Linked DNA regions of Homo sapiens: region 1 is linked to region 2. Evidence: fine-mapped expression QTL. A gene starts in region 2. The other region holds a variant in brackets. All regions are shown on one strand. Distances are between the middles of the regions. Region 1 has its middle 2.9 kb from the start of TRPV4. Region 2 holds the start of C12orf76 (chromosome 12 open reading frame 76).

The links. PIP is the estimated chance that this variant, and not a neighbour inherited with it, causes the effect. A credible set is the group of variants that fine-mapping cannot tell apart.
Region 1: its variant is the best candidate, but not a certain one, in a credible set for the expression of C12orf76 in anterior cingulate cortex (GTEx, PIP 0.85).

What each region holds. Positions count from the first base shown.
Region 1 is chr12:109,834,892-109,837,799 of GRCh38, forward strand. No RefSeq gene overlaps it. Among named protein-coding and RNA genes, the nearest start is that of TRPV4, 2.9 kb to the left of the region's middle. The variant G/T (reference allele first, on the strand shown) is at 1,749.
Region 2 is chr12:110,047,381-110,050,288 of GRCh38, forward strand. It overlaps C12orf76 (chromosome 12 open reading frame 76), which reads right to left and starts at 1,142. Exons shown (of 2, transcript NM_001389625.1): 1 at 983-1,142. The coding sequence starts at 1,115. RefSeq lists a silencer at 851-910 and an enhancer at 1,831-2,090.

The DNA of each region.
Region 1 (2,908 bases), 210 kb before region 2:
GAGTCTTACTCTGTCGCCCAGGCTGGAGTTCAGGGGTGTGATCTCAGCTCACTGCAACCTCTGCCTCCTGAGTTCAAGCGATTCTCCTGCCTCAGCCTCCTGGGGGCTGGGATTACAGGCATGCGCCACCACGCCAGGCTAATTTTTTGTATTTTTAGTAGAGACAGGGTTTCACCATGTTGGCCAGGCTGGTCTTGAACCCCTGACCTCAGTTGATCCACCCACTTTGGCCTCCCAAAGTGCTGGGATTACAGGTGTGAGCCGCCGTGCCCGGCCCAGAGCCATGCCATTTTCATCATTAGTGTTTTCACTAAATTGAGCTGACTCAGGGACTGTGGGGTAGCTCCTTCCTCCTCAGCTTGAAAATAGCAGCATCTCTCCTGAGGTCCAACAGCTGGAAAGTGAAATTTTAGAATTGCTGGGTGGGGAGGCGAAAGAGAGAGAGAGAGAGTGTGTGTGTGTGTGTACCCCTGAATAGGAGTGATGTGTTCACCTCCAGCGTGAAACATTTACAAAGAAACAAACCCTAATAATTAACTCACTGAGCACAGAAGCCTAGGGGATGAGAGGGAGAACAGGCTGTGAGGTAGGGTTTGCTCTACCCATTTTGCAAGTGGGAAACTGAGGCTTGGAGAGGAGTATGGCCTCTCCAAAAGCTGCTCCCTCCATGGTGGGGGTTGGGGTGGGAAAGAGAACCCTCTGAGGGTCCGGAGTAAACAGGCAGATGTCTGGCAGTGGAGAGGAAGGTAAACACAGGGCCCCTCACACCTCCCTGACAGACAGCTATCTGCTGGGGGCCCTCAGGGCTGGGGCTGGGGCTGGGCCAGGTTGAGAGTGGAGGAGTGAGTCTGGGACCCATTTCTGCAGAAAGGCCTGTCTCAATTTAAAGAAAATGGCAAGGGTGATTCCAGCCATAAGGCAGCTGATGTTGGGGACTGGAACTGGGGGAGATGGGGCCAGGGATGGCGACCTCCTCTTCTCTAAGCTCAGAGGGAAGGGGCCTGAGCGCTCAGCATCATCATCACTAACCCAGCTCTTTCCTGATCCCCATTTCACAGATGGGGCAACTGAGGCCCCCATGTAGGGAAGTGACTCATCTTGGGCTAAGCAGCTGGAGCTTGGCCTCTGCACCAGACACTGGGGTTCAAATCCTGCCCTGCCGCTGATGGGAGAAGGAGCTGTGGTGGGAGCTGTGGGCAAGAGCCTCCCTCTCTCTCTGTGCCTCAGTTTCCTCACCTAAAAAATGGGTACCAGTGTCCATGAAGCAAGGGAACGTGTTCATGACCACAGGTCTAGCACCTGGCACTTAGTAGGTGCTTTAAAAATACTGGTTGATGGGTCAGGCGAAGTGGCTCATGCCTGTAATCCCAGCACTTTGGGAGGCTGAAGTGGGCAGATCAACTGAGGTCAGGAGTTCGAGACCAGCCTGGCCAACATGATGAAACCCCGTCTCCACTAAAAATACAAAAATTAGTTGGGCATGGTGGTGGGCACCTGTAATCCCAGCTACCTGGGAGGCTGAGACAGAATTGCTTGAACCTGGGAGAGGGAGGTTGCAGTGAGCAGAGATCGTGCCACTGCACTCCAGCCTGGGCAACAGAGAGCGACTCCATCTCAAAAAAAAAAAAAGTCCTGGTTGATGGAGCTGGGGGAGAGGAGAATGGGAGGTTGCTGTTTGTTGGGCGTAGGGTTTCAGTTTTGCAAGATGCAAAGAGTTCTGGAGATGAACGAGGGTCACACAACAATAT[G/T]AATATACTTTTTAAGTTTAATTTTTAATCTTTTTTTTTTTATTTTTAGAGAGAGACAGGGTATTGCTCTGTAGCCCAGGCTGTAGTGCAGTTGCCTGCTCATAGCTCACTGCAGCCTCAAATTCCTAGGTTCAAGCGATCCTCCTGCCTCAGCCTCCTGAATAGCTGGGACTATAGGTGTGTGTCACCAAGCCTGGCTTTTTAAATTTTATTTTTTGTACAGGTGAGGTCTCGCTATGCTGCCCAAGCTGGTCTCAAACTCCCGTGCTCAAGTGATCCTCATAACCTGGCCTCTCAAAACATTGGGATTACAGGCATGAGCCACTGTGCCTAGCCAGAAATAATGTTTCCTCTTAGGGAAGGAAAAACTTTCAAGGCCCTCAGCATTGGCTGTGAGTCATGTGGCAGCCACATGTGGGGCGCAGCCTTGCTCTCCACGTAGCTCCTGGACTGCCCCAGGTGGACTCAGCTACCTCCCCTAAGAAAGGTTCCTGGGCAGCAGCCAAGGGTCTGCATTTACCAAGTGCTTACTGTATGCCAGGTCCAGTGCCAGATGCTGGGGAGAGATTGGTGAGCCAGACAGGTCAGGATCTCAGGGACTTTATACCCAGGGTACCCAGTTATAAAAACAAGACACGTGCACCTCACTTTACAGTTGGCACAGTCCTGATCCTGCCACTAACTCAGTTCATCTTTTGACAGCCTGGAAAGGAGGAATTCTTCCACCATTTTATAGATAATGACACAAAGAGGCCACTTGTCTGAGATCATCCCACAACTGGTAAGATTTGAACCCAAGCCCAGCAGACTCTACAGTGTAGCATGACCAGCAGGAATATTTTCCTGGCCAGGTGCGGCGGCACACACCTGTAATCATAGCATTTGGGGAGGCTAAGGCAGGAGAATCACTTGAGCCCTGGAGGTCAAGGCTGCAGTGAGCTGTGTTCAGGCAGCTACACTCCAGCCTGAGCAACAAAGTGAGACCCTGTCTAGGAAAAAAAGAAAAAAAGAATATGATCTCAAAAAGACAGACCATAAGTGTGGATGAGGAAGTGGAGAAGCTGGAATCTTCGCACACTGCTGGTGGGAATGTGTAATGGAGTGGCTGCTATGGAAAACGGTCTGGCAGTTCCTCCAAATATTAAATCTAGAGTTACTGC
Region 2 (2,908 bases):
TCCTTATCTGAAAAATAGAGCTGCAACATCAGGTGCGGTGGCTCACACTTGTAATCCCAACACTTTGGGAGGCCGAGGCAGGAGGATTGCTTGAGCCCAAGAGTTCGAGACCCCCACCTCTACAAAAAGTAAACAACAACAACAACAAAATGAGCCAGGTGTGGTGGTGCACGCCTGTAGTCCCAGCTACTCGCCCGGGATGCTGAGGTGGCAGGATCACTTAAACCCAGGAGGCCGAGGCTGCAGTGAGCCAAGATCGTGCCACAGCACTCCAGCCTGGGTGACAGAGGAGACACTATTGTAAAAGAAAAAAAAAGGGCTGCAAACCGTACGTTTCTCATTAAGTTATTGTAAGGCTCAAATGAATTCGCGTATACAAAGTGCGTAGCACAAGACATGGGATGTAGGAAATGCTCAAAAACTGTTATCATTTTTGCAATAAATACTGGCTCCTCTGGGAAAGAAGAGGGGTGGGGTAAATGATGTGCCTTGTTGCCTAGCCTGAGCCCACACTGCCAGAGAGGAGAGGACCCAGAATGAGACCCAGGTCTCCCGATTGCAGTTCATTCATGGGCAAGCAGTACATATTGAGAGCTTACTGGACACCATGCCAGGCTTGAGACCAGCCTGGCCAACATAGTGAAACCCCATCTCTACTAAAAATACAAAAATTAGCCAAGTGTGGTGGTGTGCGCCTGTAATCCCAGCTACTCGGCAGGCTGAGGCAGGAGAATTGCTTGAACCTGGGAGGCGAAGGTTCTGGCACATATTGAGCACTTGCTGAGAGGCAAAGTTCAGGCCTTCTGCCCCAGGCTTTTGGAGAGGGAGTCTCGGGGCCCCCTGAGGGGCCTCACCTGCACCCCCCGCACTCACCCATCTCCCCACTCTATCCCCTGTCCGCTCCGTACATGCCCGGCTCCAGCACCCGGAGCAGTGAAAGCTCAGGCACTACCCGCCGCCCGCCAGCCCGAGGGCCGCTCACCCAGGTTCTGCCCTCGCAGCACCGCGTACGGCCGGCTCCGCTCCAGCGGATCCACGGGGCTCGGGGCCTCTGCCTCCCCCACCAGGAGGCTGCAGAGGCCAAGGTACAGCCACGGTAACGCTGGACGCAGCATCTTCCCCAGCCCTGCAGAAGCAGAGAGGCCACTTCCGTCGCAAGCCCTGCCTCTGTCTCCTCCCAGGTCTCTCTGCGTCGCTGCCACCGCCCTTAGGGCGCGCGTCATTGCCATGGTAACTGTGCGTCCTGGTCTAAGTTCCGCTTCTGCCTAAGATTTGTTCCGGATTAACGTTCCTCAATAACTAATGTTTCCCCCGGACCAACTTTCCGTTCAGATCAACTTTCCGTCTGTGCCAACGTTCGCCGCGATTACCGTTCTGCTGTGGTTAGCGTTCCCTCATCCATTGGGGTCGAGGTCTTGTAGGTCCATTTGGGGCCTATTGAAGATTTTTTACGAATCCATGCATTTTCTTATTAAACCTTCATTACGGGCCTGGAAAATAGATACTGTGTTTCTATAGTACAAATGCCATCTTCTCAGGGAGCCCTTGCCCAGACATCCTTTTCTAAAATTGCAACCCTCCCTTTCCCTTAATGTACATTCTCCCTACCTTCGTTCTCTTCCATTCCCCCCATTCACTTTAGACTCATCACCATTTACCTTATACATTTAACGTACATTTGATGATTTTCTGAGGACCTGCTCCGCCCTAGCATGTAAAGTCCACGAGCACAGCGATTTTGTTCTTGCTCTCTGCTCTGTCCCAGAGACTGGGGGAGAGAGAGACCCTCTCATTTTGTTTTATATTGTTTTATACTCAGTACCTGTTTTAAGAAGAAACAACAAGGAAGTGAAACCAAAGACGGGCAGCCCGGCGCCAGGCCCGAAACCAGGCCTGGGCCTGCCTGGCCTAAACCCAGTTTCATGTGTGTGAAGAGACCACCAAACGTGTGTGAAGAGACCACCAAACAGGCTTTGTGTGAGCAACATGGCTGTTTATTTCACCTGGGTGCAGGCGGGCTGAGTCCGAAAAGAGAGTAAGCAAAGGGTGGTGGATTATCATTAGTTCTTACAGGTTTTGGGATAGGCGGTGAAGTTAAGAGCAATGTTTTGCGGGCAGGGGTGGATCTCACGAAGTACATTCTCAAGGGTAGGGAGAATTACAAAGAACCTTCTTAAGGTTGGGGGAGATTACAAAGTACCTTAAGGGTGGGGGAGATTACAAAGTACATTGATCAGTTAGGGTGGGGCAGAAACAAATCACAATGGTGGAATGTCATCAGTTAAGGCTATTTTTACTTCTTTTGTGGATCTTCAGTTACTTCAGGCCATCTGGATGTATACGTGCAAGTCACAGGGGATGCGATGGCTTGGCTTGGGCTCAGAGGCCTCACACCCAGTAGCTAAAAATCAACTCATAACTTAGAAACCGATGTTATTCATAGATTCCAGACATTGTATAGAAGAACGTTGTGAAACTCCCTGCCCTGTTCTGTTTCTCTCTTACCACTGGTGCATGCAGCCCCTGTCACGTACCACCTACTTGCTCAAATCAATCACGACCCTTTCATGTGAAATCTTTAGTGCTGTGAGGAGCCCTTAAAAGGGACAGAAATTGTGCATTCGGGGAGCTCGGATTTTAAGGCAGTAGCTTGCCGATGCTGCCAGCTGAATAAAGCCCTTCCTTCTACAACTCGGTGTCTGAGAGGTTTTGTCTGCGGCTCGTCCTGCTACAAGACTAGAAGAGTAGCATATTATATTCAGTAACTGTTTGCTGAATACATGAGGGAATTGAGCTAAGTGTTTGGCCCAACACTGCACACACAAAGTGGCAGAGCTAGAATTTGACCCAAGCATAGTTTTGAATCTGGAGGCTTTACCACCTCACACATTGCCTCACCTCCTGAAGG